Homo sapiens: one gene and its partners. The protein of the gene in region 1 interacts with the protein of each later gene in a biochemical or structural test. Each region holds a gene or a part of one and is shown on either strand. Other genes may lie near its edges.

Region 1 (7,709 bases):
GAACTCCAGCCTGGGCGACAGAGTGAGACTCCATCTCAAAAAAAAAAAAAAAAAAAAAAAAAATTCATTCCTCTACCAAGCTCAAGAGAAATTCTAAGACATTTTCATATTTCTCAACTGATTCCAATGTTAGAAATACAGAACCATATATGTTGATTTTGCCTCTAGGTCATGGGTCTTCCTTAATCATTATCTTTCCTTACTGGAAGAAAAACCAACAACTGCAAAACTAAATCTGTTAGGCTTTGGGAACAAGAAAGAGCAAGAAGGCTGAGAATTTGGGGCAAACAAGGAATAGGACAGAACAAAACAAGCTGTGAAACACTAATAATGGGCCAGGCATGGTGGCTCACATCTGTAATCCCAGTACTTTGGGAGGTCGAGGTAGGAGGATTGCTTGAGGCCAGGACCTCGAAATCAGCCTGGGCAAACAACTCTTTTAAAATTAGAGACCTCGTCTCTATAAAAAAATTTTAAAATGAAACGCTAACAGTGCGTATCTTCCAAAATCATCCAGTGCTCTAATTCCATGAATATAAGCTTAAATGAGCAGAAACTAAACTAAAACTAAAAATTAAAACCAAATGTCAAAGGACCCAAAAAGCTAATCTGAACAGATTTTACCTCTAATGCCAAGGCAGTCTTGTCATAAGCACAGGGTACTCTTTTCTGGATTGCTTTCGCAAAGACAGGTCCATTCTGTGTGGATGGCAAAGGGGTGATTGCTGCCCCAGGAGAACCGGAAACTGCAGGTAGAGGAGTTGTGGTCTGAGGTTGAGCGTATGCATGAGCAGGTTCTGGGATCCCATAACTGTTGGAATTCCTATTTCCATGCTTTCCGTGTGGTGAGGATCTCACAAGCTTTTCGACATAAGGGACAGGAATCATCCCAACCCGGCCATCCTTGTTCCGGGCACTCCACCACTGTTCTTCAGGCTTCTCTATTATCACTAGGATCTCACCCTTTTTAAAGGGCAGGTCTTCGGCATCATTCCCAGGAAAATCATACAGAGTCCGTACATATTCCAGGTTATCTTCTGCTGTAGGCAGGTTGGGTGCTGAGACAGATCCCATTGGTGGGCTTGGATACCTTAAGAGAGAAAGAAAATTACTCTAAGAGAAAAATCTTACTCTAAGCCAGTGCCTGTCAAACTTCTTAATATACCACTCTCCTCTATAATAAATTATTTTCCTTTTTTATGAGACAAGTTTTGCTCTTGTCGCCCAGGCTGGAGTGCAATAGCGTGATCTTAGCTCACTGCAAACTCTGCCTCCCAGGTTCAAGTGATGCTCCTGCCTCAGCCTCCTGAGTAGCTGGGATTACAGGCGCCCACTACCACGCCCAGGTAACTTTTTTTATTTTTAGTAGAGAAGGGGTTTCACCATGTTGGCCAGGCTGGTCTTGAACTCCTGACCTCGGGCGATCCACGCACCTCGGCCTCCCAACGTGCTGGGATTACAAGCATGAGCCACCATGCCCGGCCTCTACATTTTTTTTGGAGATGGAGTCTTGTTCTGTTGCCCAGGCTGGAGTGCAGTGGCAGGATCTCAGCTCACTGCAACCTCTGCATCCCAAGTTCAAGCAATTCTCCTGCCTCAGCCTCCTGAGTAGCTGGGACTACAGGCACATGCCACCACGCCCCGCTAATTTTTTCTATTTTTAGTAGAGACGGAATTTCACCTTGTTAGCCAGGATGGTCTTGATCTCCTGACCTCGTGATCTGCCTGCCTCGGCCTCCCAAAGTGCTGGGATTACAGGTGTGAGCCACTGAGCCCAGCCTTTTTTTTGGAGACAGAATCTTGCTCTGTCACCCAGGCTGGAGTGCAGTAGCGCAATTTCAGTTCACTGTAACCTCTACCTCCCGTGTTCAAGTGATTTTTCTGCCTCAGCCTCCCGAGTAGCTGAGATTACAGATGTGCAACACCATACCCAGCTAAATTTTGTATTTTTAGTAGAGACAGGATTTTGGCATGTTGGCCAGGCTGGTCTCAAACTCCTGCTGGCCTCATGTGATCCACCCGCCTCAGCCTCCCAAAGTGCTGTCATTACAGGTGTGAGCCACCACGCCTGGCTTTATTTTCCTTTCTATATTCTTAGTAGTTAAGAAGGTTCTATCATGTTGTAATTTTTGTAGTCTGTACTGTCCCAAAAGTTACTATTCTGAATGTCTTTTCAAATTACAAGTATACACACACACATACACTCCATCTCTGTTTTACAGAAACCTTTTGATTACACAGAGATACCTGGTTTAAATTTATTTTTATAATCTCAAGTAAGTTCGGAAGCTGCCTTCCTTTGGACCCTTGTCACAACCACCACACACTCTTCCTCCCAGTCCTAATCTATGGCTTACATCCTGCACACTTCCCTGGACACACAGAAAATGACAAAGGCCTCTGCCTCTGGCCTCTTGAAAAAAAAGGAACAAAAAAGGGCTTACAGACTTGCCAAATTAAAAATAATAAATCCACCAGGCGTGGTGGCTCAGACCTGTAATCCCAGCACCTTGGGAGGCCAAGGCAGGCAGATGACTTGGAGACCTGCCTGTCCAACATATCAAAACCCTGTCTCTACTAAACAGACAAAAAATGAGCCGGGCATAGTGGCACACACCTGCGGTCCCAGATACTCAAGAGGCTGAGGCAGGAGCATTACTTGAGCCCAGGAGTTAGAAGCTGCAGTGAGCTATGACTGCATCATTACACTCCAGCCTGGGCAACAGAACAAGACTGTCTCAAAACATAAATAAATAAGAGGCCGGCGCAGTGGCTCATGCCTGTAATCCCAGCACTTTGGGAGGCTGAGGTGGGCGGATCATGAGGTCAGGAGATCGAGACCATCCTGGCTAACACGGTGAAACCCCGTCTCTACTAAAAATACAAAAAATTAGCCGGGCATGGTGGTGGGTGCCTGTAGTCCCACTTACTCAGGAGGCTGAGGCAGGAGAACGGTGTGAGCCCGGGAGGCGGAGCTTGCAGTGAGCCAAGATTGCACCACTGCACTCCAGCCTGGGTGACAGAGCGAGACTCCGTCTCAAAAAAATAAAATAAAATAAAATAAAAATAAAAATAAATAGCTAGCAAGAGTAGTAGGAGCAAGAGTAATAATAAAGAGCTCATACTTATTATCTATGCTAGGCATGGTTTACGATCTTTGAAGAGATTGGATTATTTAATAGTCTGTGAGGTAGATGCTGTTATTATCCCCATTTTACAAATGAGGAGCCAAAGAAGAGGTTAGACTTGCACTCAGGGAGTCTGGTTCTAAACTCTTCACTCATAATGAGCTAATCAGCCTTAGGGACGAACCCTGCATCTGTCAGGTGTATGAGAATTAATGGCATAATGCATGTGAGGCATTCAAAATTACCGAGCAGCACCAAGCATCCAATGTACCGACATGAACACACACATACCCCTTCAAGTATATCCCTGCTTCTATTTCTTTCTCTTTTTTTTGAGACAGGGTCTTGCTGTCATCCTGGCTGGAGTGCAGAGTGGCACAACCACAGCTCACTGTAGCCTCCACTTCCCAAGCTCAAGTGATCCTCCCACTTCAGCCTCCTGAGTAGCTGGGACTACAGGCAGTTGCCATCACACACAGCCAATTTTTAAATTTTCTGTAGAGATGGGGGTCTCACTATGTTTTCAGGGCTTGTCTTGAACTTCTAGCCTCAAGCAATTCTCTCGCCTTGGCCTCCCAAAGTGTTGGGATTACAGGTGTGAGCCATCACACCCAGCCCCTGCTATTTCAAGAGCCACAGAGAGCCTGTGAACAGTCCAGTAAGTACCATATAAATTTCAGACACTATTAAGAGCACAGTCAGTTCCACCTTAGACTCCATCCAAGAGTATTTTATTATTTGTATAGTTAAAAGCAGTTAGCCAGTGTGTGGTGGCTCACGCCTGTAATCCCAGCACTTTGGGAGGCTGAGGTGGACGGATCACAAGGTCAGGAGATTGAGACCATCCTGGCTAACACGGTGAAACCCTGTCTCTCTACTAAAAATACAAAAAATTAGCCAGGTGTGGTGGCACACGCCTGTAGTCCCAGCCACTCGGGAGGCTGAGGCAGGAGAATGGTGTAAACCCGGGAGGCGGAGCTTGCAGTGAGCCAAGATCACGTCACTGCCTGAAACAGTTAAGACTCTATCTCAAAAAAAAAAAAAAAAAAAAAAAAAAAAAGCCAGGCGTGTGGTGGCTCACGCCTGTAATCCCAACACTGGGAGGCCGAGGCGGGAGGATCACTTGAGGTCAGGAGTTCAAGACCAACCTGGCCAACATGACAAAAAACCCTGTCACTACTAAAAATACAAAAGTTAGCCAGGTGTGGTGGCGTGCGCCTGTAGGCCCAGCTACTTGGGAGGCCGAGGGAAGAGAATTGCTTGAACCTGGGAGGCAGAGGTTGCAATGAGCTGAGATCACACCACTGCACTCCAGCCTGGGTGACAGAGCAAGACTCCATCTTAAAAACAAACAAAAAAAAGAAGATAGCCAAGCCCATTCATTTACGTATTGTCTATGACTGTTTTTCACTACAAAGGCATAGTTGAGTAGTTGGACAGAGACTCTATGGAAAAGCTGAAAATATTTAAAATCTGACCCTTTACTCAACAGTTTGCTGATCCCCCATCTAAATTCCTGGGTTAGGGAGGCAAAGTGTGCTTTTCAACTTCCTTGCTTCCCTGGTGAGGGGTATGTCTGTGTAGAAATTTGATAAAGATAGTTTCTATTTCCCTCCACTACTATACTGCTATAGTGACCTTGGGGCTCATTTTCTGTGTTAGTATCTGCAGAGATATTCATAAATTTGACACCAAATCAATCTCACCAGCCATAACCCTGACACAAATTCCAAGTCCTCTGCCCTATATTCTCAAACTCATTTATTCATCAAACTCCCCTGAAAATTACACATTAGTTCCACTGAAGAGATAAATACATGTTGCTCCATGTCAGATATCTTAGCCTTTCCATTAGACCCCACTGTCTAAAGAAATATGAAGCATATTCATCAGAAAATTTATTGCTTCCCAATTATTTGTTCTTTGAGCAAGGTTGAAAATAGCACCCTCCCCCAACTTCCCTTTAAAATATAAAGTGTTGCCCAGGCGCAGTGGCTCATGCCTGCAATCCTAGCACTTTGGAAGGCCGAGGCAGGTGGATCATGAGGTCAGGAGTTTGAGACCAACCTGGCCAACATGACAAAACCCTGTCACTATTAAAATACAAAAATTAGCCAGGTGTGGTGGCGTGTGCCTGTAGGCCCAGCTACTTGGGAGGCTGAGGCAAGAGAATTGCTTGAACCCGGGAGGCGGAGGTTGCAGTGAGCTGAGATCATGCCACTGCACTCCAGCCTGGGCGACAGACAGAGATTCCGTCTCAAAAAATTAAATAGATAAGGCAGGTGCAGTGGCTCACGCCTGTAATCCCAGCACTTTGGGAGGCCAAGGCGGGCGGATCAAGAGGTCAGGAGATCGAGACCATCCTGGCTAACACAGTGAAACCCCATCTCTACTAAAAATACAAAAAAATTAGCTGAGCGTGGTGGCAGGCGCCTGTAGTCCCAGCTACTCGGGAGGCTGAGGCAGGAGAATGGTGTGAACCCGGGAGGCAGAGCTTGCAGTGAGCCGAGATCGCGCCACTGCACTCCAGTCTGGGTAACAGAGTGAGACTCCGACTCAAAAATAAATAAATAAAATAAAATAAAATAAAATGCACAGGGTTTTCAAGCCCATCCAAACACCCTTGACCATGCTTCTCACTTTTTGCCTATTGTCCACTACACACTTTGAGCAGCAAAGCCCCTAACAACTAATTCGTAACTGACTTTTCTTTTCTGATGATAACGAATCTCTCAGCTCTTTTGGTTAAAAGCGTTCTCAGTTTCTACATGTATAAACCATACACAAAACATCTTTAAACCAAGTGCTAATATGTTCTAAGCTTAAAATCTCCTTATGCATGCTAAGAACCAATACAATCAACTTCTAGAAAAAGGAAGTTTCAAAGGTGCTGGTAATATTCCTTTTTTTTTTTTTTTTTTTTTTTTTGAGATGGGATCTCGTTCTGTTGCCCGAGCTAGAGTGCAGAGGCACAATCATGGCTCATTGCAGCCTCAACCTCCAAGGCTCAAGCGATCCTCCCACCTCAGCCTTCTGTGTAGCTGGGACTACAGGTGCATGCCACCACATCCGATTAATTTTTGTATTTTTGGTAGAAACAGGGTCTTGCCATGTTGTCTAAGCTGGTCTTGAACTCCTGAGCTCAAGCAATCTTCCCACCTCAGCCTCCCAAAGTCCTGGGATTACAGTCTGGGCCACCACGCCTGGCCAATGTTTTATTTATTTATTTTTTAAAGGGAGCACACAGATGATAGTTTTTTTTGGCTTGTTTTGTAAATTTTTTTGAGATAGCGTCTTGCTCTATGGCCCAGGCTGGAGTGCAGCAGTACGATCATGGCTCACTATAGCCTTGACCTCCCAGGCTCAAGTGATCCTCCCACCTCAGCCTCCCATGTAGCTGGGACTACAGGCATGAGCCACCATGCCCAGCCAATCCTTGTTTAATTTTTTGCAGAGATGGGGGTTTATGTTGCCCAGGCTGGTCTTGAACTCCTGGGCTCAAGCAATCCTCCTACCTCAGCCTCCCCACTATTTGGGACTACAGGTGCATGCCACCACACCCAGCTTACATATACTTTTTTTTTGAGACAGAGTCTCACTCTATTGCCCAGGCTGGAGTGTAGTGGTGTGATCTCAGCTCACCAAAACCTCTGCCTCCTGGGTTCAAGCTATTCTTGTGCCTAAGCCTCCCCAGTAGCTGGGATTACAGGGCCCCACTACTGCCGGGCTAATTTTGTATTTTTAACAGAGATGGGTTTCACATGCTGGCCAGGCTGGTCTTAAACTCCTGACCTCAAGTGATCTGCCTCCCTCGGCCTCCCAAAGTGCTGGGATTACAGACATGAGCCAACGTGCCCAGGCTTACTCTTTTTCCTTTTTTTTTTTTTTTTTTTTTTTTGAGACAGAGTCTTGCTCTGTTACCCAGACTGGAGTGCAATGGTGCGATCTCAACTCATTGCAACCTCCACCTCCCGGGTTCAAACAATTATCCTGCCTCAGCGTCCCAAGTAGCTGGGATTACAGGCATCTACCACCACGCCCGGCTAATTTTTGTCTTTTTAGTAGAGACAGGGTTTCACCACGTTGGCCAGGCTGGTCTCGAACTCCTGACCTCAAGTGATCCACCTGTCTTGGCTTCCCAATGTGCTGAGATTACAGGCGTGAGCCACGGCACCCTTACTCTTTTCTATGTATGAAATATTTCACAGTTAAAAAAAAAAAAAAAAAGGTAGAAAACTTAATTCCAGCTGGGCGTGGTGACTGGCTCATGCCTGTAATCCCAGCACATTAGGGGGCCGAGGCAATTGGATCACCTGAGGTCAGGAGTTTGAGACCAGCCTGGTCCAATATGGTGAAACCCCATCTCTACTAAAAATACAAAAATTAGCCGGGCATGGTGGTGGGCGCCTGTAATCGCAGCTACTCAGGAGACTGAGGCAGGAGAATCACTTGAACCCGGGAGGTGGAGACTGCAGTGAACCGAGATCATGCCACTGCACTTCAGCCTGGGCGACAGAGCGACACTGTCTCAAAAAAAAAAAAAAAAAATTCAATTCCAAGATGAGCTAAGTACTTCTCTAG
Region 2 (7,709 bases), on another chromosome or scaffold:
TAAATAAATCCTCAATCCATCTCTCTTTATTTGTATGCCCTTGTTCTAGCAATAGTCGTCATTATCTCCCCTACTCATACCCAGCTTTTGAATGAACATGCCCTGCCCAAAGTCCTCAGTAGATAGGCCTGGATATATGTTGAAAACATTGAATTCTGCTCTCCTACCTTTAGATTGGACCAAGGCCAGGCAAACCATAGGCTTGTGTTGCTGGCGAAAGAGAGACAAATAGCGAGGTAGAGACAGAAAGAGAGAGAGAGAGAGAGAAAGAGAAATGGCCCAATCAACGTGGCCCAATCAGACTCTTTCTTGGGAATCTGATGAACAAGAGAAGGGAGCTAACCATCGGAAGAGGAAGCCGAGATGAAAAGCCATCTATAGAAGTTCTGAGTGGCCATTTATGGGTTCTGCAAAGTTACAGGGGAGCCAAATGAGTAGATAATTAGAGAAAACCAGAAAATAGGTGAGAGTGAAGTAGACTGATAGAAAGAAGCAAAGGAACTACAAGAAGGAGAGATAATTTACAGTTCTAGTTCTCCCCAGACCTGGCTCTATCTTCACTTTCTGTTACTGAATTCCCCTACTGTGGCTTTACTATAAACCTGCTTGCTTAGGCTAGCTTGAATGGGTCTTGTTTCTTGAGACCAAATGCCTTAACCCAAATAGTCCTCATATGTTAGATATGCAGGTTTAGCCTTTAAAAAAATTGCCGTTTAGATGGAACCCAGGTACACCCAGTTGAACTAACAAGGTCATAAACCTTCTCTTTGCTTTTAAACCCCATTCCGTGCTTTGGAGCTGATTCCTGCCAGTGAGCTGGAAGAATCAAAATCATAATCTCTTGAAGTGATACCTTTCCTTAGTGCTAGGTGGGAAATCTTTCCAATGCCAAGCAGTTTTTGCTCTGATTGAACTTACCTGATGATGTTCCAGCTGCATCTTGTTCTGTTTCATGATATTCTCTTTTTCCAATAGCTCTTTCTGTTGCCTCTCAAACTCCTCCTTACCCTGTTAATTTTCAACATAAAGAACATATTATGTCATCACTGTGATTCACTTATGCTAACAATTTCATTGACGGATGAGTAAATACTCTTTATTTTCCACTGCCTTGGCAACATCTCAAATGCCCAGTGAGGCACTGTGAACCCTAGACGACAGGGGTGGCAGAAAAATAAAGCCCATTGCCATATAGGGTGCCAGCTTTCTGGGGCACCTTAAAATTTTCGGAGAGCTACTCATGATTCCCTTCAAATCTCATATATAATGTTCTTTTTATAGTCTCTGGGTTCTTTTCTCATAGATTATATGTGAACCTGTAAACCCCCAAATGCAGGTCTAAATGTGGTCCACCTCTCACTTCTAGTTCCCTCAAATCATCTATAGATTTCTGCTCCAAGGCAGTAGTTCCCACTGTGCAGGGTCAGACAACCAGTAAGATGAATGTTCAATGCCTCCATCCTCTCTCTCTCCACTTCCTTCCTCAGCATCAGGTGGGGCTCAGTTCTCCTTGCCACACTTTCTTGCGCTTGAGGGAATTTGGCATAATAGTTACGTAGTTCTCAGTATAATCTGTGACTCTCAGTCAAATTAAAAGAATGGCAGAATAAGATAGTAAGCCTAGTCCTAAACAATGGATCTTGGTAGATTTTTTTTTTTTTTTCTGAGACAGAGTCTCGCTCTGTCGCCCAGGCTGGAGTCCAGTGGCACGATCTTAGCTCACTGCAACCTCCGCCTCCCAGGTTCAAGTGATTCTTCTGCCTCGGCCTCCCAAGTAGCTGGGACTACAGGCGTGCATCACCATGCCTGGCTAATTTTCGTACTTTTAGTAGAGATGGGGTTTCACCATATTGGCCAGGCTGGTCTTGAACTCCTGACCTTGTGATCCACCTGCTTCAGCCTCCCAAAGTGCTGGGATTACAGGCGTGAGCCACTGCGCCCAGCCAGTAGAATGTTTTAATCCCTCAAAGTGGAAGGGAAAGCTGTCGGAATCCCAGGTCAACTTGGAGCTTGGTAGAATTCCCAATTGTAGGAGGCCAACTGTGACTATCCAATGTCCCATACACAGATTAAGCTCCTAGGACAGCTAGCTAATGCCCAGTGGTCCTCTAGGTAAGTCTGAGATGGGGCTAAGTTTTAAAGCAATTATACACACACATACACAGAGTAGGGCTAGCAGGGGCCTTAGAAATTCTCTGGTGCAAAGGTCTTCTATTCTTTTTCTTAATGACGAAAACTTTTTTTTCAAATAAAATATTGCATGGAACTATACATAAAACACAAATAGAAGTGGAGCTGGTATTATTATTAGAGGGCCTATTATCCTACTTGGTGAGTCTCCTCTTACCTGAGGTATATCAACGGGATCTAATCCAACCCCTTACCCCATTCATTTTGCAAATGAGGAAATTAAGGCCCAAGGAGGTTGAATAAGTTGGTCACACAGTAAACGTCAGAGAAAGGGCTAGATCTGAGTGAGTACTCAGGACTCTCAGCCCAGCGTTCTTACTACTCTACGACACTCCCTCCAATTTGTGAACCATGTAGATTAACATTAATTATGTTCTCTCCTTTGGCAGTCCAACCCGACATCCTTATAGGCATCTTTCTCAGGCTCCCTGCATGTGAGTGAGTGTAGGTGTTTTATGAGTTCCGCTGTTTTACCTGTAGGTGGACGTAATCGTAGTCATCCATCCAGCTCCTCTCAGAACCATCACTGCTGCTACAGTCAGGGGCCTGCTCCTTGCTCAGGCCTGGGGGCAGTGCCTTGTTGTGGGCCTGGGCCTTGTGGTCACCAGGATGCAGCAGCTGTCCCTGGGAGCCACCGTGTGGGTACTCCGTTGAGTTCATGATGCTCTCCGGCCCATTCTTCAGATGCAAGCTGCCAGGGCCGGGTCTGAAGAGGGCCTCTGCGTTGGTGTTGATGGTTGTGGTGAGCTGCTTGGCGTCATCGGGCACCGTCTTTGCCACCATCACAAACCGGTCCAGATCGTCACACTTGTTCTGGGGCTTGTTGATGGCCAAGATATTCAGGGACCAGCTGCACTCATTTAAGTCATGGCTGGTTTGACTCAGGATCTGGTGGGAGTCTTCAACTCGTTGCAGCTCCCGCTTCATCTTGTTGTGGAGGATGAGTTCCGGGAGGCAGGCAGCATTTGCAACAGCTCCCTTGACAAAGTGGAGGTACTCCTTCAGGAACAGCTCCACCTTGTCCACTGCTGTGCGTATTTCATTGATGTGTCTTTCCATATATCCGTAACACCGCCAGTCGGTAGTGACCAGTGCCATTAGGCTGGAGACACCCATCTCAAGGGCCTGCTGGAGCCGCTGAAGTCTCTCAATAGCTGTGTCTGGATCCAGGAAGAGCCTTTTGTCCTGAGCTGGGGAGGCTGACAGTGAGGACTCCTTGGAGGAGGTGGAAGACGTGGACATGTTACTCCGGGTGCTGCCTGTACTGGAGAAAGACAATCGGTTGATCCCATCCACCAAGTCCCGAGAGCCTTTAGCATCTGGCGGGTTATGCAGAGGGACATCATAAACACCATCCCTTTCCTGGGGGTTTGCTTTCTCACTGGTTTCTGCTGGTGGCTCAAGAAACTGAACGCCTCGGGGGACATCATATGCGTCGTTCTGAGAGCCCACTGACTGTCCGAGTTGCGGGGGTGGGTGATTCGGGGACAGGCTCTGGTGCCTTCGAGCCACCGGTTCTGCAGCTCCTGGAATGTCACAGTTGTATTTTACATGAAGGTCCTTCCCTGCTGGCTTGGTGCAGGTTGGAGGAATGTCATAAACCCCCTCCGGTCTGAGGTCCGGCCTTCCAGCTTGTCTCATGGGAGGGGGGAAGTCATAGTCTTTTTCCCTAAGCCCTGCTTCATCCCGGCAAGCAGAGGGCGGAATGGCATATACCTGCAAAGCAAGTAGAAAGCGAAATGCTATTTATTGAGTTGGCTCATGGGAACCTGTGGTCCCATGTGCTCAGTCCTATTTGCTGGCACTTTTTCGGTCGCCCTCCCCCGCCCCAATGTTAGGCACTTCCAAGGTTCCCCGTTATTCTGCTGTCACTTCCCTTGTCCTTTGCCAAGTGTGTCCAACCCCACGTTCTTGGTGCAGACTCGTATGTACAACCCTCCTGGCTAAATTGCTCACCCTGTGTTTCCAGTCCTGTGTTTCTGACCACCTCCTGGGTATCCTTTCTCTGCTGATCTGTGCCGAGAGGCAGAGTAAGACCAGAGTTCTCCCCCGGTCTTTTTGGTTATCACACCAGCTGTGTGATGCTGAATGAGCTGCATAGGCGTCTGAAACACAGTCCCCTTGTCTGTAAAGTAGGGATTACTGTGCCTCCTGTGCAGGCATACCCCATAGGGTAACAGAGTGAGTCAAACGAGTTCACTCAAACATACACACTGAGGAAACTGTCAAACCCTCTACAGGCCAGGCGCGGCTCAGCCTGTAATCTCAGCACTTTGGGAGGCCAAGGTAGTAGGATCATTTAAGCCCATATGTTCAAAACAAGCCTGGGCAACATAGGGAGACACCGTCTCTACAAAAAATAAAATTTATCCAGTCATGGTGGCGTGCACCTGTGGTCCCAGCTACTTGGGAGCCTGAGGTGGGAGGATTGCTTGAGCCTGGGAAGTAAAGACTGCAATGAGCTGTGGTTGCGCCACTGCACTCCAGCCTGGGTGACAGAGCGAGACCCTGTCTCAAACAAAATGTAACAAAACAAAACAAACCCTCTACAAATATATATTAGTACTTGCCAAACTGAACTAATTATCTTCCCTGCCAAAGGGTTATCCTTATTGGCCACCTAGTGTTTTTTAGTTGGGGCTTCTCAATATGAAATCCCTAGAGCTATCTTTAATTAGTGCCTTTCCTTTTTTGCTTCCTTCCTTTACTCTCACCAAGACTACATTTTCCCCTTTTGGGTTTGCCTTTCTTGTTTTATTCGAGTGAACTACTTACCCACCCTCCCAACCCTGCACCCCCCGACACACAGACACACACACACACTCCTTTTTGCTGCTTTGTAGTCACTCACTCACCCCTTTTGTAGGCGGGATGTCATACACCCCTTGAGGTTTTATCTCTCCCACTGGAACTGAAAACACAGGGCCTTTTGCTGATGAGGGAGGGATGTCGTATACCTGAAGAGAAACCCGTGAGTTACCCAGAATGGAAATGTCTTATACTTGGTCATTTTTTATGCTCCTAAGCACTTAATTATGGATTTATTTACCAGGTTATGTACAAGCTTGATCTTTGGCAGTGCTCCATGTTATAACAGATTTATTGCCTTTTTTTTTAATACATTTTATGGTTTTTAACTTACATTTAATATAAAAATGATTTTGGCCAGGCACGGTGGCTCACGCCTGTAATCCCAGCACTTTGGGAGGCTGAGGTGGGCAGATCACAAGGTCAAGAAATCGAGACCATCCTGGCCAACATGGTAAAACCCCATCTCTACTAAAAATACAAAAATTAGCTGGGTGTGGTGGTGCACACCTGTAGTCCCAGCTACTTGGGAGGCTGAGACAGGAGAATCGCCTGAACCCGGGAGGCAGAGGTTGCAGTGAGCTGAGATCGTGCCACTGCACTCCCAGCCTGGTGACAGAACAAGACTCTGTCTCAAAAAAAAAAAAAAAAAAAAAAAAAAAGATCTTATGTGAAATATCTACGCTGTCTGTACTTTAAAGTGTAGTTTAAATTTTCTACTTTCCAGCTGGGGGCCGTGGCTCACACCTGTAATCCCAGCACTTTGGAAGGCCGAGGTGGGCAGACCACTTGCAGTTAGGAGTTCAAAACCAGCCTGGCCACCATGGCAAAAGCCTGTCCCTACAAAATACAAAAATTAGTCAGGTATGGTGGTGTGTGTGCCTGTAGTCCCAGCTACTTGGGAAGCTGAGGCAGGGGCAGGAGAGTTGCTTGAGCCTGGGAGGTGGAGGTTGCAGTGAGCTGAGATAGAGCCACTGCACTCCAGCCTGGGCAACAAAGTGAGATTCTGTCTTAAAAAAAAAAAAAAGAAAAAAGAAAAATCTACTTTCTGAAGCAAAATTGTAGAAGAACATAAGCTCTCTTGGGTGAAATACTAGGATTTCCTGATAAAGCAAATCCAGAAAACATAATTTAAATAGCATTGGCTAAAGTGGCTACTGGGTAGACAACCTAAACAAAGCTTCATATGACATATATTAATGCATAATTTGTGAACTCCCTTTTCTCTACAGCCCTGAAGGAATGCTACCCTTAGAAGCGCTTCTCCTCTTGTGACCATGTTCTGGTACGCACCCCTTGAGTGGTATGAGAAGGAGGGATATCATAGACGTCCTTTTGGTATCTGGATGGGTACTCGTATACGTAGCCATGGCCTGTCCTCACGGGGGTTATCACCTGTGGGAGAGAAGGCACAGAGGTGTAAATTTCCAAGCCTGAGTCCTTGAATCTCCTTGCCTCCTAACTAAGCACTCATCCCTCAACTCTCCCTCATAAAAAGATAGAAAGAAACCAAAGAAAGAAGACATAACAGGAAGGAGACAAGTAGACACCACGTTAGTAAACTTTTTTTTTTTTTTTTGAAATGGAGTTTTGCTCTTGCTCCCCAGGCTGGAGTACAGTGGCACAATCTCAGCTTACAGCAACCTCTGCCTCCCGGGTTCAAGTGATTTTCCTGCCTCAGCCTCCTGAGTAGTTGAGATTACAGGTGCACGCCACCATGCCCAGCTAATTTTTTGTATTTTTAGTAGAGACAGGGTTTCATCATGTTGGCTGGTCTCAAACTCCTGACCTCAGGTGATCCACCCACCTCAGCCCCCAAAAGTGCAGGGATTACAGGTGTGAGCCACTGCATCTGGCCCAGGTTAGTAAACTTTTAAATCCCTCTTGAATCCCAATGAGAAAAAAAATCCCTAAAATATCTCTATCACCCTTAATTGTGATCATCTCAAAGTTCATCAGATAGAGTTGATGCACTGCAAGCATATTTCTGAAATATACTTTAAGGGATACTTGTGTGTAACTTATGAAAGTCCTAGAGGAGCATTTTGCATCTAAAGTACCGCATACTGAAATTTGCTTTAAGGCTCTGAAACAATTTGTAAAATGAATAATGCAAATAGAGTTTAGCCACTTAAAATTCCTCTCATGCCTTCCTCAGTATGCCTCTTCATTGGACATTATTATGATGATTATAACTGTAATTCCACAGGTCACCAGAGTACTTTTACAAAGCCAATGCTCAAACTGTGCTGTCCTTAGAAACCTCTGGGAGCTTTCATTCTAACGTATCAAACAAACAAAATACTGAGTCAGGGAGGCACCAGGAACAGAATTCAGGTCTCCTGACCTCTGGTCTCTAATCATTTTCCCATTTCCACCAGGAAAGAAAACATCCCCAACAGTACCTACGTCAAGGGATATCAGAAGTCAAATAGCGTTCATCACGATGCTGGCATCTGGAACCAGTGCCAATAAAATGAATCTTACCTAGCAGCCTCCTGTTTTCATATCTACATACTTCATTGGTGTGCTAAGCACCAGCAAAAAATTATTTGAACTTAACTCATTTTGAAATATATGTAATCGTCCAAGGGCTTCTAAATGCCCAGGGTCTTGTTTCTGCCTAACCCCCACCCTTTGAGTCATTGAGTGCCCATCTCAAGCGTTGCCCACGACATCTTTGAGGAGAACAGACATTGCAAATGAGGAAG
Region 3 (7,550 bases), on another chromosome or scaffold:
TTGATACAAGCTAATATTGGTCAGATAAAATTATAAGCAAATAGAAAATGTCCCTGATAACATCATATCAAAATGAATGAACTTTCCTAAAATCCAATCAGACTAGTTCTTAAAACATCTTCCCACAATCCCTCAGTAGAAAACCCTTTTTTCCTAGTATTCAAATCCAACCTGTTCAAATCTAAGTAGAAGAGGAAGGTGATAAGACACAAATGAGGCAATTTGATCATAATCTCTCATTAGGACTCTGCCTTCTGATTTTAGTTGCTTTAGAAGAAAAAGTAATGCTCAATGTGTAGACTTCTAAAACAAAACAAATTCTTCCCCAAAGGCCTAAATTCCTGTTGTTGTTGTTGTTTTCTCCACCCAGTTATAGCTAAACCAATCCAGAAGTAGTGGAAAATGTTAAAACCAGCAAAGCAAGAGTAGAAAAGTCAGGGGGTAGCTGGAAAAAAATCTATACAGGGAAAGTTGAGAAAGTAAAAATTAGCCATCACTTAGGCTTAGATAACTGACACAAACCCAGCTGGTTGCAAAGTTAACAGGAAATAATATTTCTTCCATGGACAGACTGCAGCTGTAAAGGGTGACAGTAACCCCTCCTGTAAGTAACTTCTGCTCTGTTTCTCTAAAATGGTAGACTGTCAGAAACTATGCTGTTTGAAATTATATTACAAAGATGAGACATCCACTCTTACTTGAAGTACCTCTATTTTGATCGGTATGATTGAAAATTCAGTAAAATCTTGCTATTTAAGACTCCCTAAAGAGAGAGGAACTGCCCTTCTAATTACTGGAAAGTGTGAAGTATTGAACAACATAAATGCACTTTCCTTTTAAAAGCAAACCGTAGTTCAGTGGAGTCTAATACAGACTCAGTCCCTCAGCTGCAGCTCTAAAAAGCTCTGAAAAACAACACTTTTTTTTTTTTTGGTAAGTCTTAGAGAAGCTCTCGTAGTGATAACACCTGCTCTAAACAGACACACAGCTCTTTATAGTCTTTATTTATTCCACTTAGTGAGAATATTCATGTTCTTAAATGTAAAAGTACAGAAATATTAATGCATGGAATTACAGGATTCTCTCCAGACTATATTGGAATGGCATGTAACCAGCAGGGTCAACATGTATGTTTACCTTTCTAAATTCTGAGCAATGTCTTTCTCAGTTCTGAAATTTAGATTCTAAATTTTAATTCCAAATTCTGAAAAAGCTTGAATTCCAAAATACGTCTTGGCACAAGCATATTGGATTATAACCATGGGCAAACAATGTGCTAAATAAGTGAAGTTCTACTAAGAAGTCTTCCATTAAAAAAAAGCAGAGAGATTAGACCTGCATTTAGAATATTAAATAGGGGCCTAACAAAGATCAGGGTGATTCATTTCTAAAGTGAAATCTAGCAATAAAATAACGTTTCTACCAATTTCATCTCTCAGGAAAGATAAAGACCTAAAGTATACACCCCATTTTTATCCTAGCTTAAAACTTTCTAGTTATTAAGACTATTATAAAATCCTATTTTATATTTCACTTCAAATACAGAGGCTTAAAAAAAAATCTTCCCACAATCCCTCAGTAGAAAAATCTCTTTTTTCCTAGTGTTCAAATCCAACCTTTTCAAATCCAAGGTAGAAGAGTAAGAGGATAAGACACAAATCAAGTAATTTGATTATAATCTCTCATTCAAATACACTTTAAAGTGCACTTCAAATACAGGGGATAATACAAATCAATTTCTGTTTTAATGCAAGAGTTTTCTAAATACGTTAAAACAAAAGTGCCGTTCAGAACAAAAATGATTTGATAAAATAATTTCAACTGACAAAGATTTCTCACTTAAAACACTTAATAATTTACATGTATTTAAGCCTTTTTGAGAAAATATAATTCTATCTATGCACTGCTCGGACTTTCACTGGGGAGAAGGAGGACATCAATGTATTTAGTTGCATTTAATTAAAATGCTGCCTGTGTGAAGGCAATGAATTTGTCCCTACTAAGACAAAGAAGTCAGATGGTAGAATCAATTCCATTTCTTCCAGGAACTCTTAGGGATTAAATGGTTCCTTTTTTTATTTTTAATACCAAGAATCAGATATGGCACAACATCTTCAACTCTTTTTTTTTTTTACTACACGCTGCAATGCTTTGAACTCTACTTGAGTTCGACTGAATCTTTGCTAAGTCAGGCAAAACTCAAAAAATATTTTGCAACACTGTTTCCAACGTAAAAAAAGATTCAAACTCTCACTTCTCCAATTGTCTTTCTAGTCCTTGAACATTCCAACAAAAGAATGGATTGCATTTATATAGTTTTTAGGTGGGCTTAAGGTTTTGGAGCCACATTGCCAAAAACAGACAAACAGACAAAAAGAAACACCCTTAACTCTTAACTCAAATTTACATTTTACTACATAAAACTTTCTTGCTCTCCAAGTTCATTGGCTAAGTAAATTACTTGACAATGAAAATGTATCCACAAGAGTAATTATGCTAAATTTTAGTAGTGGTTCAGAAGGGTTGTTGTTTGAATGCAACTGCTGTTTCTTTTTGTAGTAAAAGATTTGTCTAAGCTCATAAGACGTCTGGACATTTCTACTTTGAGTAACTTTGATAAACACTGCGGCATTTTCCAGTGGATTCGTGTAAATGGCCAAAGGAAAATGTTCTAGCTCCAAGATCGACTTCCTCGCGCTGTGCCTGATCCCAATCCCGCGTCTCCCGAGGGCCGGGCCGCGACCGCACTTTCCGCGCTCCCTGGGGGCCTGGGCGCCCTGGGGTGCCCGGGTCACTTTCCGCACGGTCTGACCTCCGTCCCCTCCGCCCAGGCCTGAGCCCCTCTCTCCCGGCGCAGCTTCTGGATCCCGAGCGCGGGTAGGTTCAGGAGCGAAGCTGGCGGAACCCACCTGTATTTTATTCACATGGTTTCAGCACTTTTACCTCGGCCGATGAAGGTAGAACAAGAAAGGGCATGAAAGCAGCGCGTCGTTCCCCGTAACCTCCTCTCCTTACCAGAAAGTCCCGGCCGGGTAGGGGACGCGGCCACACCTACCTGCGCCAGGTGAGGCGAGGGCGGGCGCAGCGCGGGGCCACCCGCTCCTCCTCGCTCTCCAGCCGCCGCCGGGGTGGCCTCAGCCGCCGGGCCCGCGGCTCTTCCTCATTTTGGGCAACTTCCTTAACGCGCCCGGGCAGGCGGCCCGCACTTCCTCCCAGTGTCGCGCCCCGCCGCCCTGGCCCGCCCTGCTGACCGCGCCCATGAGCCCGGAGCTGGGCGGGAATCGGCTGAAGCGCCGGGCGAGGCCCGCGGAATCGGCCCAGGCGGCGGCAGGTGTAGAGGAGCCCGGGTGGGGCGCGCCTCTCTCCTCCCGCCGGACAAGGGCCCTTCGCAGGCAGAGAAGGTGGGGCTGCCCGGGACATGGACCGCATCGGTCCCCCTCCTCCCCGCCAGCGCGGTGGCTTCTGTGACTGCCCAGGACCCACAGACACCCAGCGGCCCTTTCCTTTTGCTATGCAGTGCCGGGGAAGAGACTCCACTGCATGGCATATTCCCTGGAGTGTATCTTGGTCACCAAACCAACAAGCTCCAAGCTACTGTGCTGGAGCACTCGGGAGGCCTGGGCAGTGCTGAGAGGGACCCTGTAGGTGAACACCAGACTTCACGGCGCACTAGTGGGCAATGGGGCACGCTGCTTCTGAAGGCTTTAATTATTACAAAAGGCTTTGCTTCCTTCTTACCATGACGGCTCTGACGTCCACAACCAAATAAATTAAACCTATAGCCCTAAGAATGGTTTTGAGATACCCGCCTGATACCCTTCTCCCAACCCATCCCCCTTTTCCTTTTGGACATTCCTCTTTAAAATGTTCCCACAAAACGGCATCCAGACCTTCTTGATAACACTGGTTGGCAGTGCCTGTTTTAAAAAGCTTTACCCTAAGCCAAAATGCGAGAAGCAAAAAAATATATATATAATGTGCTGGATTGTAATTGCCATGGAGAAAATATAGGGATGGGACTATTTACACTTATTGGAGCCCCCAGCCTTTTCTGCTTCCAGGGTTATTGGATTTTCATTCATTTTTGCCATTATTTTTTCTAAACCTGTTAAAAGAAAACTTCAGCAGAATTAAATTTAAAGCAGTTTAATTGAGTAATGAATGATTTGCGAATGGGGCAGCTTCCAGAATCACAGCGGATTCAGAGACTCCAGGGATGCCTCATGGTCAGAACATATTTATAGACAAAAAAAGGGAAGTGACATACAGAAATTGGAGGTAAGGCAGAGAAACAACTGGATTGGTTACAGGTTGGCTTTTGCCTTCTTTGAACACAGTTTGAACACTCAGCAGTGTATGAATGGTTGAAGTATGGCCACTGGGATTGGCCAAGACTCAGCTATTGTTAAAGGCACATACTCCTAAATTAGGTTTTCAATCTTGTCTGCCTATTAAGCTAGGTTACAGTTCATCCACAAGGACTCAAATATAGAATACAGAGTCCTTCTCAGATCATACTTAGGTTGCTTTAACAAACATAAATGGAAGATTTTGATAATGGTTATATTTGCTTATCATTGGACTTAATTTTGCTTCAACTACCCGAAAAAATAGCCATTGTTCCTGAGATGGAGCCTGCAGAATGTCTACAGATGGTTTTCAGAGTTGTCAGCATTATTGGAGATGAACACTAGGGGACCAGTGTGTACAAAGCAAACCCAGCCTGCACAAAGATTGCAGTTTTCTCAGGCTTTCACCTGATGGAAATGAGGGGGAAATTCTAGATCCATCTACAACCTCCTTCCTTTACACTGCTGTGTTCCTTTCCCCCTTTGAGTCACCTTCCGCATTACTTAGTATCATGTAGTAATTTTTTTTTTTTTTGAGACGGAGCCTCACTCTGTTGCCCAGGCTGGAGTACAGTGGCCCGATCATCTCAGCTCACCGCAAGCTCTGCCTCCTGGGCTCACGCCATTCTCCTGCCTCAGCCTCCCGAGTAGCTGGGACTATAGGCGCCCGCCACCATGCCCGGCTAATTTTTTGTATTTTTAGTAGAGACGGGGTTTCACCGTGTTCGCCAGGATGGTCTCGATCTCCTGACCTCGTGATCTGCCTGCCTTGGCCTCCCAAAATGCTGGGATTACAGGCGTGAGCCACCATGCCTAGCCTAAAAGATGGTTCACATTATGTATCATCAGGGAAATGCAAATGAAGACAGTAAGATATCAGTATGGCCCAAATTCGGAACACTGACCGCAGTGAACACTAGTGAGGATGTGAAGCAATAGAAATACTCATTCATTGCTGTTGTGAATGCAAGATGGTACAGCCACTGTGGAAGACAGTTTGGCAGTTTCTTATGAAACTAAACATCCTCTTACAACATGAGTAATTATAAGAGGATTGTCCTTCTTGGTATTTACCCAAAGTAGTTGGTATTTACCTAAAGTAGTACCCAGTAATTGTGCTTCTTGGTATTTACCCAAAGGAGTTCAAACCTTATGTTCACACAAAAATCTGCACACAAATGTTTACGCTGGCTTTATTTACTAAGTTTATTGCCAAAACTTGGACACAAACAAGATGTCATTCAGTAAGTGAATGGATATATAAACTCTTGTACATCAGTGTAATGGAATATTGTTCCACACTAAAATGAAATGCACTAGCAAGTTATGAAAAGAAATGGATGAAATCTAAATGCATATTACCAAGTGAAAGAAGCCCTCTGAAAAGGCTACATACTGTATAATTTCAACAGGTGATATTCTGGAAAGAGCCAAACTATCTGGATAGTAAAAAGATCAGTGGCTGCCATGGGCTGGTGGGGAGGGCAGGATGAATAGAAGGAGAACAGAGATTTTTTAGGGCTGTGAAAGTATGCTGTATGATATTACAATGGTGGATACACAGCACTATACATTTGTTAAACACCATACAATATACAACACCAAGAGGGAACATCAGTGTAAACTTCAGGCTTTGGGTGATTATGATGTGTCAAAGTAGGTTCATCAATTGTAACAAATGTACCAGTCTGATGGGGCTGTTGATAATGGGAAAGGCTGTGCATGTGTGAGGTCAGTGGGTATATGGGAAACCTCGGTACCTGCCTCTCATTTTTACTGTGAACCTAAAACTGCTCTAAAAAATAGTGTTTAATTTAAAAAAATAGTTTTTTTGGTAACAGTGGCAAGTATTCCTAATAGGCAATCCCTTAAAAGAATAAAAGCACAAAGGAAATAGAAACATCCCAAATTTCAGACATAATCATCATTACCGTTAGGTGACCCTTACAAAATTATCTCTTTCTATATGTACACATGGCAATAGATATAAAAATGGGCATCATTTTAAATATAATACATTTATTATACATTTTATCCATGTTAAATATGATATTTAATTCTACTTAAATTTAACAGAATAAAAAATTCTGAAATGGGATCTAAAGAATTGCTGATTTTATAGAAATGATTCTTTGCCACAAATGTATCATTTCTGAAATGACCCCACTTTGATTAAAGGAAAAGAAAAGTGACAATAATAAGCAGTTTTCGTCATTTCTTCTAAACCATGAGCTTTAATTTCAGACAGTATCAGTAACTCTGCTATGATACATGAACCAATTACCTCTCTCACTCCACTTCACTTCAGCTCACCTCTCACGTTTCCCTAGTTATATGAGTTTTACATAGTTAAGTTTAAAATTTTTGATTTCTGTAACCATAAACCCTCAGTGGTCTCTTCTTAGTTCTCCATTTAAAAGGATACCTTATGCACCTCCAGACCTTTCTACCACCATATCTCATTCCTACTTTCTTTGTTGATGAGCTGGATGGACTCTGTGAAGATGTGATCCCACATACTGCATCTATCAATGCTCTCCACTTTCAGGATGTTATTCTGTTGCTGTTGTATTGCAGTGACATCAAGGTGGGCACATTGTGTCTCCATCCTACTTCCCTTTGGCCTAGACTCGGTTGATTTTCCTCCCTTGCCCCTTTGGCATTGAATGTTGTTTTGGAGAAATGTGAGAACAGCCAGTCCTTTGTCCTCTTTTAGGTGACTTGCTCTTCTTTCCAGGCTGCTGGAGGAAACTTTCTTTAACTGAGATATTAAGAAACTTGACAAGGATATATACTGATACAGATCAACCAGCATCTTTTATTTCTTTTTCTTTTTTTGAGATGGAGTTTCACTCTTGTTGCCCAGGCTGGTGTGCAATGGCGTGATCTTGGCTCACTGCAACCTCTGCCTCCCAGGTTCAAGCAATTCTCCTGCCTCAGCCTCCTGAGCAGCTGGGATTACAGGCGCCCGCCACCAAGCCCAGCTAATTTTTTGTATTTTTAGTAGAGACAGAGTTTCACCATGTTGGCCAGGCTGGTCTCGAACTCCTGACCTCAGGTGATCATCCTGCCTTGGCCTCCCAAAGTGATGGCAGGAGTCACCACACCCGGCCATCTTTTATTTCTTAAACACAATGCACTCTTTAATGCACATCATAATCACCCAAAGCCCAAAGTTTGCATTGAGGTTCCCTCTTGGTG
Region 4 (8,624 bases), on another chromosome or scaffold:
GGGACTAAAAGTCATAGATAATATGTTTTCATTTATTAGCTAAGGAGGGAAGAGAATGTTCTCATTAGAGAAGTCCAAGCCCACAAAAATATGGAATTCTCACAGCCCTGGCGACTGTGAGAATTTTCTTCTGGAGGGTGGTGTTGTGTTCTTTTTCCATACCTTCTTATTTTTAATTCTCCACACTGCAAGCCATTTAGTTAGATCAACCAAAGTCAATGAGAGAGGGAGGCCCAAGTACCTGAGAGTGGAGTTGGGTAACCATCCAGCCCTGAAAGTAAACCCAGGCCCTCCAGCTCAGGGTCTAAAGGAAATCAGGCAATGAGACCAACGGTAAGAAGTGGAATTTGTTCCTCATTTTCATTTGTTTTCGTAGGACTCTGCAGCTGAGTTTATCTGCTGCAGTTTGGCACTTCTTGCCCTAAGCTTTTTGAGACAAAGATTGCGAAGGAAGGAGATGAGGACAAGGGAATGAGGAGGCCCAGGAGGTGGAGCCAAAGGGATAAGAAAAAGAGGCCCCAGGCCCCTGTGTGTTTTATCAGCCGAACAGAAATGCTGCTGAAGACATGCATCTGCAAAGGTGGTGCCAACTGGGTTGGGTCTACAAGTGCGGAGCACTGGGGACCACTGAATTAGTCAGAGGTCCCCAAGCCTGCTCCTCCTCTGTCGCCATATGGCAGAGATTCAAAGGGTGGAGTCCTCTCCCCTCTGGAAAATAGCTGATAAAATTCTTTTCCCTTTTATTTTTCCCCTCTTACATGTAGCCCTGGACAGGATATGGGTGTGGGGTCAGCAGGCACGAAGGACCCAAAGGAAGAAGAGGAATGTGACGGGGAGGGCCTGGGGGTGTTGTTAGAGTGAGGATAGGGACAGGCCTTGGAAAGCTTGGAGGAAATAGATACCCTGAGCCTGACAAAGGGGTTCCCTAATTACCTGAAAGGCTTCCTGCTCCAGCCAGCACTCTGGCAGTGCTGCCTGGTGGCCCTTGAGCCCCTTACCCTGACTCTGCTCTGTGATCTCCCCCACTTCCAACAAAGACAGCCCACTTCTGGTTAGTTGCAGTGCCTATGCACATGCCACCTTCTCAAAGGGACAGAAAAAAAGAACTTCCCAAAACAAGCTCTTTGTTGGGGTAAATGATGAGAAAACAAACCACAGAAATCCCCTCTACCCTAAATTTTACAATAATAATAGCATTTCTGCAATGGCCCTATGGTAGCATTTCAAGGTACACTCAGTTATCTCATTTATCCCACAATGTATCCCAGGACTGAAAATGACTCCTAGTATTAACAAAACAAAACAAATCCAAGCAAAAACCCTAGAAAGCTCTTGGGAAGGGCATAAAACTACAATTGGCTCAAGTAGTCTGGCAAGGCTGGGAATGGGGCCTTGTGCCTCATCCCTCCCCACCAAAAGCTGGGATATTCTCAGCATATCAGTCCAAAGTTTTGCCAAGGTTGTGTTGCTCCCCCAACCCCAACCTCGGCAGGCCAAGGCGAGACTGGCACTTACCAGCTGAGGAAATAAGAAAAGGGTGGACCTCATTCGGCTGAGGACCAGGTCATCACAAGCTGTGTAGCCAAAGGAGAATGGAGCATCTGATTGGAATCTGCACCACTGGCCAACTCACCCCTGTTTTTTTGTTTTTTGTTTTTTGTTTGTTTGTTTGTTTTGAGAAGGAGTCTCGCTCTGTCTCCCAGGCTGGAGTGCAGTGCCAGGATCTTGGCTCGCTGCAACCTCCGCCTCCTGGGTTCAAGGGATTCTCCTGCCTCAGCCTCCCGAGTAGCTGGGACTATAGGGGTGTGCCACCATGCCCAGCTAATTTTTGTAATTTTAGTAGAGATGGGGTTTCACCATGTTGGCCAGGATGGTCTCGATCTCTTGACCTCATGATCTGCCTGCCTCGGCCTCCCAAAGTGCTGGGATTGCAAGCGTGAGCCACTGCGCCCGGCCGACTCACTCCTGTTATGAGGGCCTAGTCTAGCACCCACTCTAGAATTTTGAAACCTCATTGATAGCTTTTCCTTGCCCCAAAGCACACATCCAGGACTGCCAAACAGGGCAACCCAAAACTTCTCTCAGAGCTTCCTCCAGCCCAGGGGCAGCTGTCCCCAGCTGGGCGGACCCAAAGATGGACAACAGAGGAGACTGGGAACAAAGAGGTCTAGTCCAGGTCACTCTGCAGGGCCACAGTGGGTGGCCCTTAGGATGTAGTGAGAGTACAGAATTGGGAGCCCTAGAGTGCTGTAAGCAAAAGGGAGAGCAATGTACAAAGTTTCAAAAGTTTCAAACCTTCCAAGTGCAAAGAGATGAGGTGGAGAATGTCATTCCCCAAGGAAAGTAATCGAGTATAAATATTTACCGGGTGCCTATTTTTTTTTTAACCGAAGTGAGAGCAAGACCTTAAGAGTAAGGATATGTGTAGGTGAGTGGGGGCAGTGTTCTAACCCATCCACTAGCTTTAGAACTTGGAGCAGGGGCAGAGGAAGAAAACTCCAAAAGGTGACAAGTTTTGAAATTTGTGCAGGGGTGACGGTTTTTGGTAAGGCGAGCGAGGCTGGGCGCAGAGCAAATTCTGTCTACTTCTACCTCCTCCGCGGTGGGGTTGCTGAAGTGGGAATTCAAACTCAGCTTCCCAATCTTAAATGCAAGGTTTTTGTTTGGTTGGTTGTTTGGTTTTGTTTTTCCTTTTCACGGACTGTTCATTCCGAACACCCCTGGCCTGGGACCTGGAGCCTCATCCCTGATTCGCTTCCCTCGAATTCCTTAATGTCCACTTCTGGCTCTCCCAGTCCCTGTGCAAGGTGGGCACACCGGCCCCTTCCCAGCAATCCGCTCCGTGTCTATACTTTCTGAATCAACCAAGAGCCACAAAACTTTTCCTGCTTCTCTCCTCCCCAGTCTCCCGGTTCTGGCTGCAACTTCGCACTCCGCGCCTCTGGCAACCAGAAGAGACCCTGGCATCTCCAAAGCGCTTTATCTCAGTCCATTGGAACCAGTCGTGCTGACCGATTCACACCTCGGCTAACGCACACTCGCGGGGGTGATGGCCTTCCCTTCCCCTCCCACCCCCGTCAGCTCCCAGGTGAGGCGCTGGCCCCGGGGGGAAGCAGCTGTGGGCGGCAGTGCGTGGGTTGGGCAGGGGTCCCTTCCCTCCGTGAGACTCTGCTCTGCTGTTCAGCCTCCCAGAAAGCCTCCACCCTCCCCGCGGCGAAGCCAAGCGGCCGCGGCGCGCGGGCGGTACTCACGCAGCAAACTCAGCAAGCAAAGCGCGGTCCAGCCCCGCGGCATCCTGGGCCCTGCGCGCGCGCCCCTGCGGACCAGCATCCTTCCCGCGCGGCTCCTAGAGAGACGCACCGAGTGGAAGACACTACTCGGCTTGGCCAGGACGCGCTCTTCCCGCCCCCTCCGCCCGGGAGAGGGGTGGGGGATTCTTGCTTTTTTCCTCTCTTCTCCCCTCCCTTTTTAGTCTTGGCAAGGCAGCGCCTCTCCTTGGCTGCTACTAACTTGAGCTCCCCTGGTTGGTCCCAAAGGCGGAGGGCGTTAGGAGGGAGGCTGGGTTGCCGCCGTCGAGGCCAAAAAAGGTGGAGGTTTGTTCGGGCTCCAGATGCCTCGTTCAGCTTTCTGGAGAGGCCCCATCCCACTTCTTCAAGCTCCACTTCCACTTAACTTTTAACCCCTTTGTGGCAGCCTTGCCGGTGGCCAGGGCAGGGGCAAGTTTCCTCCGATTTTTTCCCCACTTTTCTTTCCTTGTGATTTTCCTTTATTTTTAAGTTGTAAGCCAGTAACAATCTTGCAAAAGGAATCTACTGTAAGGACCTCAGTTTAGAAGTGTGAGCATTTCGTTAATCAGGTAAAACTTAACCACAATGTGGCACATTTAGTGATAGCCTCACCAGATCCTGTGCTGTGTGTGAGTGAAGCGTCAGGAGTGAGCAGGTATACGTGACTATAAGTATTCATTTTGGCTGTCCAAACCATTCTTGGAGACTTTTTCTTTCTTTTCTTTTCTTTTTTTTTTCCTGCAAGACCTTTTTGTGTTATGTTAACTTTTTGCTAACTTGTGTTAACTTTTCCTGTGACCTTCCATATTTCCCCATTTAGTTCCCCATCACCATCATCCTAAAGAAAAAGGACTTCCCTGGATGCCTTCTCACCAGTTATCCCCTCTCCAGCCCTGGGTCTAAGCCACTAGGGATTTCACCTTGCTCTCCCATCAGAAAAAGGACTTTCTGTGACTCCATCCTCCACCACTTGATAGATCCTTGAGCTTCCTGTTCCTCACCAGTTCCTCTGGGTGTTGGTTGTACTGAATAGAAGAAACTCTGAGCCGGGTAGGCAGCCTAGTCTTGGGGACGTAGAGACGGGAGAAAGGAGAAGCCAGCCTGGGCAGATGATGGCACCAGGGGAGGATCAGATAAGGTATAACCTGGGAGAGGCTGCTCTGATATCCAGAGCAGAATCATGAAATTATAAATACTCAGTTCAGGCTCTTCCATGATGTCTGTACCACATAGCCTAAAGGGAAAAAAGAGAAGCCAGACCAGCACTCTGTGGTCCTTTCTGATTTCTCCGCAGACACTCTAGCATTATAAAAGTAGCTTTACCTTTATAGTCCATCTCAAACCTACTATGCGTTGGGGTTGCACAGGAGAAGGATCCAGGTCTAAAAACAAACCCAAAATCTCCTTATTCTGGTCTTGTTGCCTAGCATTCCTTTAAACAGGGAACAAAGTCTTTCATCACACAATAAGAGCAAAGGCCTGATATGCTAATTTGATTGAATACAACGGAATGGTATGAATCTGTTTCAAAGTACAAATGATGATTCAGAACTGATCACATAGTGATGGCAAGGGCCTGGGGACAGAAGGAGTGGCAAACATGCATTTTAAAATCAGTCATTGGTCCTTGGGACTCCCAATTAACAGGGAAAAGGAGTTAGTTCCAACACTGCCAGGCCCCCCACTCCCCTCAACTTCCTCAGCTCCAGGGACCGCTCGGTCTGCTTCAGGCATCCAGTGTGCAGTTGAGAACAAATGTGGGGTTGTAATCCCTGCTAGATATGAAAGCTAATTTGGTCCACTTTAACTTCCATTTCCAGATTTTTTTTTTCTGGTTACTTTAAATACCATTTGTCTCCCATAGCTGGACCACGGGAAACAGGGGAAATAACTTGTCTTTCTTTAGTACCTGAACTTCTTAACTAGCTTTGGGAGCAAAGAGAGAGAGAATGATTCTGTGGAGCAGAGTTTTCTCAAAGCATGGTCTACACAGAATCAAGGGTGAGGGCCAGAATCTGTACTTTGAGTAAGTATTCTCCATGACTCATGCACACTGAGGTTCAAGAAGCCCTGGTATAGAAAGAACACTTGCTGGGTACAAGGAGCAAGGGCGAAGTGGATGTCAGGCTTCAGGGAGGAAAAATAGAAGTAGGGGATATGGGAGGCTGGCAAATCCCTTCCTCTGAGAGACCAGAGCTGTTTCTTCTCTGGCTTGCAAAGGTTATGGATAGCCCCAGAACTACAAAGCTAGACAGTGATTGGCCACTCTTCATATTTTCCAGGGTCACTGAGACTCATCACCCCAAGCACACACACCCTTGCCCAAGCCACCCCCAAACACACGTTCTGGCCACTGGACACAAGGGTACCCAGGGACCCCAGCCTTACATTTCCTCACAGGCCAGGTAGAGTTGAGCTATGTAGTCTCTTCAAAGTTCTAGCCTTTCTGGGCTGCTCCTCAATTCTCTGCTCTCCTGCTTCATAAGCTGTTGCTAGAAGATGTTAGCTACACCGCACAAAATGGAGGATACAACAGAAATACACTGAGTCAGAGGCTGTCTCAGGCCCTTTACAGACCCTTGGAGGTCACAACCACTTTTACTATTAAACATCCCTTACCTCACCCCTCCCCAAAATACACACGCATCATGTCAATCAACCTAAAAGAGGACCTCATCCTATGTCAAATATGTCTGATGTTAAAAAAGTAAGGAAAATGGTTGTTATAATTCTGAATTTTAAAATATATTCATTTTGTTCTTATAATTCAAACTTTATTATATTTACATGAAACTATGAAAGAGTTGAATTGCAGTTTACAAGTTGAGTTGACATTTTTGTAGGCATTTAATGAAAAATTTGTGAATTTTGATTTTCCAATTTTATATTTTGGAACCAAGACTTTTTTCCCACATTGCAAACTTTTTTTTTTTTTTTTTTTTCAGTTTGGCAGGGATCCTTAGCGGTAGAAGTGTTCAGATGCTGGACTGATGCAGTGACAACCTGCAAGTCCCTTTTTTCCTCTTTCCACCTTCTAGTCTCCCTCCAGTGCCTCCTCTTGGCAGAACCTAACAAGAAATCAGCTGACAAGGGAGTCTGGGAACCAGTGTCCTGTGGTAAGTCACCATGATGCAATGTTTGCCTCCATGATAGGCAGGCTATTCCAGAGGCCACAGATCAGGAAGACTCAGACCAAATTATGATGATCAAATCACAAGGGTTATGGAATCTATTTAAAGCATAGAGCCAGAACCAAGGGGACAGATTTACACAAGGTTGATACACTTGGGAATGCAAGCAGGGCAAAAGTCCTGCACAGTCTCACAGCCTCAGTCATGTGTTTCGCTCTGCAGTGGTATAGTTATGAGGACCAGAACTGAGATTGAGTAAGGGGATCAATATGAGGAAGATGCTTAGAACCAAGGTATACTCATTCTATTGAGAGATGTTTAAGGGTAGGTAGGCTTGGCCACAGGTCTTTGTCAGTGTTCTGGGAAGCCATACTTTTTGCCAGTATTTCTTGGGTAGAGCTTATGGGGGGCCAGAAGGTGCCACCAGTAGGTAGTCAATTTAGGGATGACATGGACACCAGCCAGAAGGTGGCATAATCTATACCTCATGGCTTATGATTTGTTTTTTCCTATCCTTTTCTGCCTGTAAGTAGCACTCTTGTTTGTTCCATCCTTTTGTAGTCTATTCCATTTATTCTGTTTTACATGTCTTGCAGGTTACTAACTTACTATAGATTGAGAATCCCAAGTCTGAAATTTGAAATGCTCCAAATTCTGAAACTTTTCGAGTACTGACATGGCACTCAAAGGAAATGCTCATTGAGGCATTTTGGATTTCAGATTTCTGGAATGGGGTGCTCAACATATAAGTGTAATGCAAGTATTCCAAAATCCAAAAAGTATCCCGGATAAGGGATACTCCATCCTGCATTTTTAGCACATCTTCTGAATTCTGCCTATGTCTCACAAATGACTTGCTTACTTTGTATCTATAGTTAATACATCTGATGAGTTTCACCCACCTGCTTTTCTTGTCCTCTGTATGAAACTGAATATTCTCATGTAACAGAGCAAACACACATTGTAGCCAGTATTATAGAGAAAAGTACAGAGGAGTAGGTTGGGGCTGAGGGAGACAAAATAAATAACTAGCAGAAAACCAGTTTTATGTATTTTTCATACAGCTAACCATTTTCCTAGTTGCATTTACTGAGTAGTCTCTTCTTTCCCTTCTGACCTGACATGCCATTTCTGTCGTGTTCCACATTTCATACGTATGTGGGTCTGGCTCTAGGCTCTCTAGCATTGGTCAGTATGGACACCCCAAGTGCCTTCGCCATTGCCTTATTTACTGTAGCATTAAATAAGTTCAGACATCTGTAGGGCAAGTTTTCCTCTCCCAAATTGTCTTCAGAAATGCCCTGACTATTCTTGGCTCTTTGTTCTTCCAAATAATAATAATAATATACAATTTTATAAATGCTTATCAGATTTCCTTCCAAAACAGCCTTTTGGATTTTGATCAAAATTCCTCCATAGATCAACCTGGGGAGAACGGAATCTTTCCTTCAGAGAACTTGGTATATATCTCCATTGTTTGAGTCTTCATTAAAGTTTATAATTTTCCCTGTAATGGTTTTAATTCATTCATTATTGTTAAGTGATAAATTCATTTAATTCATTGTTAGATTTATTCCTAGGTAATTTATGTCCTCTAAGACTATGGCAAATATTATCTTCTTTTTAATTATTTTTGTTGCTGGTGTATGAAATTGCAATTTATTGTTTTATATTAATCTTTTATTGAGCTACCTTATTAACTTATCTTATTAGATTGAAGTATTTCTAGATTATTTTGGGTTTTATATGTAAATGATCATATCACAAGCAAATAGTGATAATTTTATGTTTCCTTCCCAATCCTTCTGCAACTGATTTGTTTTACTTAAGTTAATATACTGGCAAGAACATCTAAGGATAGAAAGGAGTGGTGATCATGCACATCCTCACCTCATTCCAGATTTTGAAGTGTAAGCTTCTAATGTTTCCACATTTGCTTAATTTTTTAAATGTGCTTTTTATTTATTTAGTTATCATTTTTAAATTATTATTTTATCTTAGAGACAGGGGCTTGCTATATTGTCCAGGCTGGTCTCGAACTCCTGGCCTCATGTGATCCTCCCACCTTGGCTTCTTAAAGTGCTGGTATTATAGGAATGAGTTGCTGCAACTGGCCTATATGTGCTTTTTATCATTTTAAGGTTATTCTCTTCTATTCCTAATTGACTAAAAGATTTTTTTCTTTAATAATGAACTAATGATGATT

The links.
Region 2: the proteins of CRKL (region 1) and NEDD9 form a complex in vitro, tested with the Homo sapiens proteins (one study listed by BioGRID).
Region 3: the proteins of CRKL (region 1) and SYK form a complex in vitro, tested with the Homo sapiens proteins (one study listed by BioGRID).
Region 4: the proteins of CRKL (region 1) and CD34 form a complex in vitro, tested with the Homo sapiens proteins (one study listed by BioGRID).

What each region holds. Positions count from the first base shown.
Region 1 is NC_000022.11:20,927,160-20,934,868, reverse strand, and holds part of CRKL (crk-like protein), read right to left. Parts: intron 1,091-7,709; coding exon 625-1,090; intron 1-624. UniProt on the Homo sapiens protein: May mediate the transduction of intracellular signals.
Region 2 is NC_000006.12:11,187,300-11,195,008, forward strand, and holds part of NEDD9 (enhancer of filamentation 1), read right to left. Parts: intron 6,394-7,709; coding exon 6,292-6,393; intron 5,148-6,291; coding exon 5,046-5,147; intron 3,907-5,045; coding exon 2,665-3,906; intron 1,009-2,664; coding exon 919-1,008; intron 1-918. UniProt on the Homo sapiens protein: Scaffolding protein which plays a central coordinating role for tyrosine-kinase-based signaling related to cell adhesion. As a focal adhesion protein, plays a role in embryonic fibroblast migration.
Region 3 is NC_000009.12:90,797,399-90,804,948, reverse strand, and holds the start of SYK (tyrosine-protein kinase SYK), read right to left. Parts: upstream 3,131-7,550; 5' UTR 3,056-3,130; exon of another isoform or gene 2,910-3,055; intron 1-2,909. UniProt on the Homo sapiens protein: Non-receptor tyrosine kinase which mediates signal transduction downstream of a variety of transmembrane receptors including classical immunoreceptors like the B-cell receptor (BCR).
Region 4 is NC_000001.11:207,907,751-207,916,374, forward strand, and holds the start of CD34 (hematopoietic progenitor cell antigen CD34 isoform a precursor), read right to left. Parts: upstream 3,376-8,624; 5' UTR 3,331-3,375; coding exon 3,252-3,330; intron 3,089-3,251; exon of another isoform or gene 2,905-3,088; intron 2,808-2,904; exon of another isoform or gene 2,618-2,807; intron 1-2,617.